Homo sapiens: one gene and its partner. The protein of the gene in region 1 interacts with the protein of each later gene in a pairwise test. Each region holds a gene or a part of one and is shown in the gene's direction. Other genes may lie near its edges.

Evidence for each region.
Region 2: the proteins of CAAP1 (region 1) and PTN interact in a two-hybrid assay, tested with the Homo sapiens proteins (one large-scale study listed by BioGRID and IntAct).

Annotation. Positions count from the first base shown.
Region 1 is NC_000009.12:26,885,288-26,891,016, reverse strand, and holds part of CAAP1 (caspase activity and apoptosis inhibitor 1), read left to right. Parts: intron 1-3,503; coding exon 3,504-3,704; intron 3,705-4,828; coding exon 4,829-4,913; intron 4,914-5,729. UniProt on the Homo sapiens protein: Anti-apoptotic protein that modulates a caspase-10 dependent mitochondrial caspase-3/9 feedback amplification loop.
Region 2 is NC_000007.14:137,249,734-137,253,233, reverse strand, and holds part of PTN (pleiotrophin isoform 1 precursor), read left to right. Parts: intron 1-1,842; coding exon 1,843-2,004; intron 2,005-3,500.

The DNA of each region.
Region 1 (5,729 bases):
GAGTTTGTTGTACTTGGCTGGAATTCAGTATTTTTACTTTCATGTATGTGTTTCTTTTTTTTTGTTTTTTTTGAGACGGAGTCTCGCTCTGTTGCCCAGGCCGGAGTGCAGTGGCGTGATCCCGGCTCACTGCAAGCTCCGCCTCCCGGGTTCAGGCCATTCCCCTGCCTCAGCCTCCCGAGTAGCTGGGACTGCAGGCGCCCGCCACGACGCCCAGCTAATTTTTTGTATTTTCAGTAGAGACGGGGTTTCACCGTGTTAGCCAGGATGGTCTTGATCTCCTGACCTCGTGATCCACCCGTCTCGGCCTCCCAAAGTGCTGGGATTACAGGCGTGAGCCACCGTGCCCGGCCAACTTTTATGTATATGTTTCTAAATTAGATCAGACTGTAGTTTTTATTTTTGTAATGGATTGAATTAGGAAGCTTTGTGTTTTTTTGGTGTGTTCTAGAATGGTTTATATTTTCTTCTCAAATATTTGTCAGAAGTATCTGGGTCTAGTGGAGTTTTTTAGAGTGATTTTTTAAGACACTCTTTAAAAAAATTATTTAATATAGATCTATTCAGTTTTCCCACCCCTTCTAGATTCAGTTTTGGATATTACCATTCTTATTTTAAATAGTTTCCTTTTTTTTTTTCTTTTTTTGAGATAGGCTCTCACTGTGTCGCCCAGGCTGGAGTGCAGTGGCACCATCTCAGCCCACTGCAACCTCCGCCTGCCAGGTTCAAGTAATTGTCCTGGCTCAGTCTCCTGAGTAGCTGGGATTACAGGTGCCCGCCACCATGGCCAGCTAATTTTTGTATTTTTAATAGAGGTAAGGTTTTCACCATGTTGGTCAGGCTGGTTTCCAACTCCTGACCTCAGGTGATCCACTCGTCTCAGCCTCCCAAAGTGCTGGGATTACAGGCGTGAGCCACCGCGCCTGACCAGTTTCCCACTCCGTTATGATGGGGAGACCAACAACACTGGTCAATTGAATATTGAAAACATTTTGCGTACAGAACTAAACCCATCTTCTAATGAAAAATTAGTGTATTTGTGAAGAAAAGGTCATTGCATATTAGGCATGTAGATAACATTTCAAACTTTAGAGAGTGCCATTATATCTGTTGTGTATTGAGGTTCCTTTTTTTTTTTTTTTTTTTTTTGAGACAGAGTCTCGCTCTGTCGCCCAGGCTGGAGTGCAGTGGCGTGATCTCGGCTCACTGCAAGCGCCGCCTCCTGGGTTCACGCCATTCTCCTGCCTCAGCCTCCAGAGTAGCTGGGGCAACAGGCCTCTGCCACAACGCCCAGTTAATGCTTTTGTATTTTTAGTAGAGACAGGGTTTCACCGTGTTAGCTAGGATAGTCTAGATCTCCTGACCTTGTTATCTGCCCCCCTCAGCCTCCCACCTCGGCCTCCCAAAGTGCTGGGATTACAGCTGTGAGCCACTCTGCCCGGCCGAGTTCCCTATTTTCTTGGGAAGAACTTTATTGAAATGTAGTTGACATACTGTGCAATTCACCCATTTCACATGTACAGTTAAGTGATTTTGTATATATTCAGAGTTGTACAACCGTCACTACAGTCAGTTTTTGTTTTTGTTTTTGTTTTTTTGAGATAGAGTTTCCCTCTTGTTGCCCAGACTGGAGTGCAATGGCGCCATCTCGGCTCACTGCAACCTCCGCCTCCTGGGTTCAAGCAATTCTTCTGCCTCAGCCTCCCGAGTAGTTGGGATTACAGGCACCCGCCTCCACACCCAGCTAATTTTTCTGTTTTTTATTAGACACGGGGTTTCACCATGTTGGCCAGGCTGGTCTCGAACAGCTGACCTCAGGTGATCCGTTCGCCTCAGCCTCCCAAATTGCTGGGATTACAGGCGTGAGCCACCGCGCCGGCCTAGTCAGTTTTAAAATATTTTCATCACTCCAGAAAGCAACCTTATGTGTAACGTTTAGTTTATATAATATGTGGTGTTTTGTGTCTGGCATCTTTTACTTAACATAATGTTTTTAAGATTCATCCATGTTGTAGCACATAGGGTTCATTCCTTTGTATCACAGAGATTCATGCCTTTTTATGGTTACTATACCACATTTTGTTTTGTTTTTGTATAGCTGTACATATGTACCACATACGTATAGATAACGCTATACAGCATTTCATTTTTCCATTTATCACTTGATGGGCATTTGTGTTGTTTCTGCCTTTTGGCTATATGAATAATGCTGTTAAGAACAAGTACAAGTTTTTGTGTAGACATATCGTTACATTTCTCTTGGGTATATATCTAGCAATGGAATTGCTGGGTCATATGGTAACTTTTTGAGGAACTGCCAAATTAGCTTCCAAAGTAGCTGCACAATTTTATATTCCTGCTAACAGTGTATGAGGATTCCAGTTTCTCTACATTATTACATTGTAAACTGTTAGAACAAGTGCTGATTCTTTTACTTTTTCAGTCTAATTATCATAGTGTTCATTAAAACTGACCCATTTTAAAACTGCTTTGTAAACAACTATCTGACCTCTGTGGTCAGGGAAGATTTTCCAGAGGAAATGACTGTTGAATTGTCTGAAGTATCTGAATTTGTTAATCTTGTGAATATAGTGTGATAGATAAAGGAGGGAGGAAAGACTGTCATAGGAAAATGGTATGCAAAAGCCCTGCTTCTATGAGCTGAAGGAAGGAGAATAGGTTACAGTCGAGTAATTCAAAGAAGATTGTGTCCTAAACACAAAGAATGAGCATGAAGGCCAGGTAGGCCATATTACCTTAGGAGCAATGGGAATTCATTGAAGAGTTTTAAACAAGAAGGATGAGTACGTATACATTTTATAAAATCCATTCTGCTAACAGTGTACAAAACAAAGAGACCTCAGATTAGATGCAGGGAGTCCCATTAAATGGCTATTGGTGTAACCCAGGCAAAAAATTGTGGTAGTTTGGAACAGAATTATGGCAGTAGATTTGGAGAGACTGGATAGAGTTGGGAGACAGAAAGTAAAATGGACAGAAATATCTTAAATTACTGAAATTACTTGGTTACTTTGATTATGATTATAAAGTTTTAAAAATGATGATAGCTCCTGGTACGTATGTTACTTTTCTGTATAATATTTGTGATTTGTAACATCTTTACTTCAATTTATTTATATGAATTTAAGTACAGTGATAATGCATACATAGAGCTTTTGGGTGAATGGCCTTTTAGGGGAAAATCCTAATTCTTCAAAAGTCTAAAATTTTAAGAAATTATTCAATATTTACTATACTTTTGTTTGTGTATCCTAAATATCTCTTCCCTTATAGCTACTCCTTGAGTTAATTGCAGTGTGGAGAGAAAAATCAAGTAATATTAAACAGATATTCTCTCCTATGGTTTTGATAAATAATTATGCAAAGAATTTGGGAATTTTTGATGAAGAAGAATTTATTAAATGAAAACGTATGATGTCATGTACGTATTCTTTATATTTTAAGTAGTATTGTTTAATGGTTCTTTATTCTTTTAACTTTAGGAAACTAAATATATTTTGCCAACTTTGGAAAAAGAATTATTCTTGGCAGAGCACAGTGACCTTGAAGAAGGTGGACTGGACCTGACTGTGTCATTGAAACCAGTTAGTTTCTATATATCAGACAAAAAAGAAATGCTTCAGCAGTGCTTCTGTATTATAGGAGAGAAAAAGTTACAGAAGATGCTTCCTGATGTGTTAAAGGTACTTCATTACACATCAGACTAGATACATATGTAGAAATACAGCCTTCTTTGTAGCAATTTTTTGTTTTACTTAATGCGGTTTTGTTTGTTTGTTTTTTTGAGACGGAGTCTTGCTCTGTCGCCCAGGCTGGAGTGTGGTGGCGTGATCTTGGCTCACTGCAACCTCCGCCTCCCGGGTTCAAGCAATTCTCTTGCCTCAGCCTCCTGAGTAGCTGGGACTACAGGCATGAACCACCATGCCCGGCTAATTTTTGGATTTTTAAGAGACGGGGTTTCACCGTGTTGGCCAGGCTGGTCTCGAACTCCTGACCTCGTGATCTGCCCACCTTGGCCTCCCAAGGTGTTGGAATTACAGGTGTGAGCCACCGTGCCTGGCGTTAATGCAGTTTTTAATTGGATGTTTACATCTAAAATAAGCTACTTGAAAAGATTTTGTAAAATAGAGAACCATAATATATTTGGTTCTTGGAGCCTTGTATATTTAAAAATTTGCCACGAAGAAATGTTTAGGCAAGAAATGTGTTGACTCTGTGGAGATAATTCTGTTAAATGCAGGGAATGATAGTAACTAAATTGGACATACAATCTTTATGGTGCTTTAAGAAATAATGTCACAATATGCTGCTGTGTAACAACAAACAGCAATGGTTAATAATAGCTTATATTTCATTAGATTCACAAGTATTTTTATTTATTTTTGAAAATTATTTAGGGAAATATTTGTTGTTTTAATTTTACAGTTGTAGAAATTGGCCTTGGTCACTAAAGTTAAGCCTGAGATCATATATCTAAAGATACAAGACTTGAATATTTAAACCTTTAGAATAATTACTTAACATAAATAGACTGCTTAAGAATAGCTGGGAAACTGACTCACTCTTTAGTTTTTTTCTTTGATAGTAAATACAAGTTTATGCATTCCCTTCAAATATGCAGTGTTCACATATTAACTGGCAGTTTTTCAGATTTCATCCCAGGAAAAGATGTATGTGAATCTACTTGAGGCTTTAATTTATTTTATTGTAAGATTTTGCTAACTTAAATTTTTATGATTGAAATTTTCCAGTTTACATTGGGGCTGTGTTACATAAATGCATTTTTTTAAAATGTCATTTCCTTTAGAACTGTTCAATAGAAGAAATTAAAAAACTATGCCAGGAACAGTTAGAGCTCCTGTCTGAAAAAAAAATTTTGAAGATTCTTGAGGGTAAGAATACATATTTTTACATTCTGGCAACTTCTTAGTTAATACTATATTCAGCATAAATCCTGAGGTATTCTTTCTCCTACTTGGATATTTAATTTCATTATTGGGTTGTTGTTGAAGAGTATTTTTACTTCTATTTGCACTAAAAAATATAGTTTACATATCAGAAAAGCGTTTCAAGAATAGACAATATATTGTTTTTCCAGGTCAAGTGTATATAGGTAAGAGTATAACTAATAAAATGAAATAAAAAATGTTTACCAAAAATCTGTAAAAAAATTAATTATTGGAAAGGCAAAGATTTCCCTTAAAATCTTTTTAATTTTCTGCTTTAGATTTTTTATAGTGTTTAGTCACCTATTGCATATTGTTTACTCTCTAATAAGACCCAGATATAGAGTTAGAATACTTCCATGCAATTTACCAATATTTGTTTGTCTGCCTGTAGTGTGACTACTCTTGGTGATACTCACACCTCTAGAATTTTGGATTATCAGGCATTTTTTTTTTCTTTTGGGACTTTGCAAGGATTTTAGCTTTAACATGACAGAAGAAGAAACAAAAATTGGAGCCTTTCAGTTTCCAGTGATAGCTTCATTTTTAAATGTAAAATTGATGGCATTTTGTAACTCTGGAAATAGATATATACATATGTACATAGTGTGTAAGTGTATATACACACATTGTTGTCTGTATACATTTATATAATAGAGAAAAAGAAGTCAATGAGGCCGGGCGCGATGGCTCACGCCTGTAATCCCAGCACTTTGGGAGGCTGAGGCGGGCGGATCACAAGGTCAGGAGTTCGAGACCAGC
Region 2 (3,500 bases), on another chromosome or scaffold:
TAGCATTCCTCACCCGCTCCAGATGTGAAAACTAAAAATGTCTCCAAATATCTATGGCCAAATGTACCCTGTTGGTCAAAATCATCCCTGGTTGGGAACCACTGCCTTTCCAAAGGGACATAAAATATATCCTTGATTCCTCTGAATAATGTTAATTGATCTGTCTTCTCTCTCCTTTCTTCTATTTCTAAGTTCCTTTGATTTTTCCTTTCCCCTTTTCTTATTTATTCTCCTGCTTCTCCATGTTTCTCCCTGTCACTTTCAGACCTTCTCTCCCATTTGATCCCTCCCCAACCTCCACACAGTTTCACAGATTCACTTACTGAGTTCAGCAGGGCTGCTCACAGCCACGTTTCATAAATCTTTCTCCCACTGACTGGAGTCAGTCTTATGCTGGCCTGATCTATCTATCTGAGACAGGATCTCTCAACACTTTCAACTTTATATCCAGTATTGAACCCTCAAATAACCTCTTCCACAATCCAGACTTTTTGTCTTTCTTAGCCATAGTGGGACATGATGCCTGAAATGTCCTATCTGTGTTCTATGGAAATGCATTGTGGCCCATAGACAAGTGAGGAAGGATAATGGATGTATACATGTATGTCTTTTTCTCCCTCTGTAATCTTTGGGGTATTTTTTATTTGAATGGATATAGACAAGTTCTATAAAAGTGTGATGGAGAACAGGTACATTTGGTCTTAAATTGTATATGGGCACCTTAAAAACCCACTTACAAAAAGTTTAAAAGGTATATCTTAAAGACTTACATTGAGAATATTAAATAACTCTCAAACTCAACAGTAAACAACAAAACAACAACAACAAAAAACAAAACAAACAAAACCTAACAGTTCAATAAGAAAGTGGGGAAAAAACATTAACAGACATTTTACCAAAGAGGATATATAGGCAACAAATGAACTCCTGAAAATATATTCAGCATCTTTTCCTTATTAGGGAACTAGAAATTGAAACCATAATGAGATATCACTCTACATCTATCAAAGTGGCTAGAATAAAAAATAGTGACAAGACGAAATGCTAGTGAGGGTGCCAAGAAACCAGATCCCTCATATGTTGCCAGTGGAAATTGTAAGGTGGTACAGCCACAGTGGAAAAAGAGTATTGCAGTTTTTTACGAAATGAAACATGCATTTACCATGTAACACAGCAGTTTCTTGGTAATTTATCTCAGAGAAATGAAAACTGATGTTTCCACAAAAACCTATACATGAATTTATATAGCAGTTCTATTTGTAGTAACCCAAGGCTGGTAACAACTCGGATGTCCTTCAGCTGATGAATGGTTAAACAAACTGGGGTACATTGGGACCATGGAATACTACTCAGCAATAGGAAGAAACAGACTATTGATGCACATGACTTGGATGGATCTTCAGGAAATTATGCTAAATAAAAAAGCCAATCTCAGAAGTTTACATATTGTAGAATTCCATTTATGCAACATTTTTAAGCTAGAAAAATGATAGAGCTAGAGAACAGATAAGGAGTTGCCGGGGATTAAGGAGGTGGGGAAGGAGGAAGGTGGCTAGGCCATGACTATAAAGAATGACCCACTGTTGTATTGGGACTGTATATTAATAGTGTATATTAGTGTGTATTAATGGTGTATATTGATGGTGATCGTATGCATCTACACATGTGATAGAATTGAACAGAAATCAATACACACGCATACACTCTGTATTATTTCTTATAGCTGCATATGGATCTATAATTATTTCAATAAAAAAGTTACAAACAAAAGTGTGCCTTTATTATCCTGGAAGTACGATAGGATCTTTCAAGGATTTCTGTTTGGTTCTACCCTGCCTTTAGCGGAGTGCAAATACCAGTTCCAGGCCTGGGGAGAATGTGACCTGAACACAGCCCTGAAGACCAGAACTGGAAGTCTGAAGCGAGCCCTGCACAATGCCGAATGCCAGAAGACTGTCACCATCTCCAAGCCCTGTGGCAAACTGACCAAGCCCAAACCTCAAGGTAAGTCCTTGCCATTATACCACAATTTTAATGGATTGATGGACTCAGGTAAGATCTGGAAAACCCACATTTTCCAGAAGGAAATATTAGGTGAATTACCTTAAGAAAGTGACTGAAAAACTCCCCTACACTGAGAGTCACAAAAATACTTTAAAAATACTTTGAAGCAGGCAGCCTGTGAGTGCAAATTGAAGTCCTCTGCATAGATGAGGGGATTGGTACAGTCTCCTAACCCAAATAAATAACATAGCAAAAGAAACCAGCAAAGACAGTTGTATGATGACCATATATTCCACACTCTTAATTGGAACTGTATCCTGACAAGAAAAACAAACTCAGAATGTTTATGACGGAGACAATTTTAAATCAAACTTCTCCCAGATTATCTGAAATATAGTTTTCACAAAATCAGGAAAATTATTTTACATTTTCCCTTTATTCACTGCATAACTTAATGGGTTCTGCATTTGTTTTCAGAGCCTTTATATTTTTTGAGTTCAATTTGGTTACCAACTACATTCATCACAGAATTTTTAAATGACAGAGATCTGTATCTCCCAGAAAGTCAGGCTCTGCTCTCTTGCTGGAGAAGGTAAAAACAATCATTATGGCCATGAATTCATACATACAAGGATCCCAACTGAGGGAAATAAACTCTTTCATCATGGATGTTATTGTCTGAATTGTGTTTTCCCAAATTCATATGCTGAAGTTTTAACCCCCTCACAATGTCACTGTATTGGAGACAGGGTCTTTAAAGAGGTAATTGAGATAAAATGCAGTCACAAGGGTAGGCCCTAATCCAGTGCAGCTGGTGTGTTTATAAGAAGGGAGATTAGGACACAGAAATACATAGAGAGAAGACTGTGTGAAGACAGAGGGAGAAGAATGCCATCTACAAGCCATAGGGAGAACCTTCAGAAGAAATCAGCCCTACAGATGCCTTGATCTTAGGCTTGTAGCTTCCAGAACTGCAAGACAATAAATAAATAAATTTCTGTTGTTTAAGCCACCAACTCTGTGGTACTTTGTTATAGGAGCTATAGCCAACTAATACAATGGGACTCAATGAACTCTAAATTCAAATACCTTCTTGGCCTCTACTCATATATTTTAACTCTAAGGTGGTCCTGAAAATTCATACTGCCAGAGAAATTGTAAGGAGAGATTCAGAAAAATGACCATGTAAGAAATGCTCATAATAAATAAAAGTAGAAAAAAAAAATCTGCAGAAGGTGATGGAGATTGGCTGGTTTCCTGCTGGTGGCCAGAAAGGACTTTATTTTTCACAGGCCTGGCTTTTTGGCCACTGCTGGAGTTGTCCATAGAAATAGTTATCTCCAACTTCAGGATGGCCAGGTACAGGCTGGACCTGCAGGTGGTGAGTCTAGGGTTCAGGCTGCCCTTTCCAGATCATGGAAATCTCTGCCTGTTGTCATATGGTTTTTGGAAGGCATGAAGCAGGGCTGGAGTGACTGCAGTGAGTACTTATGCAG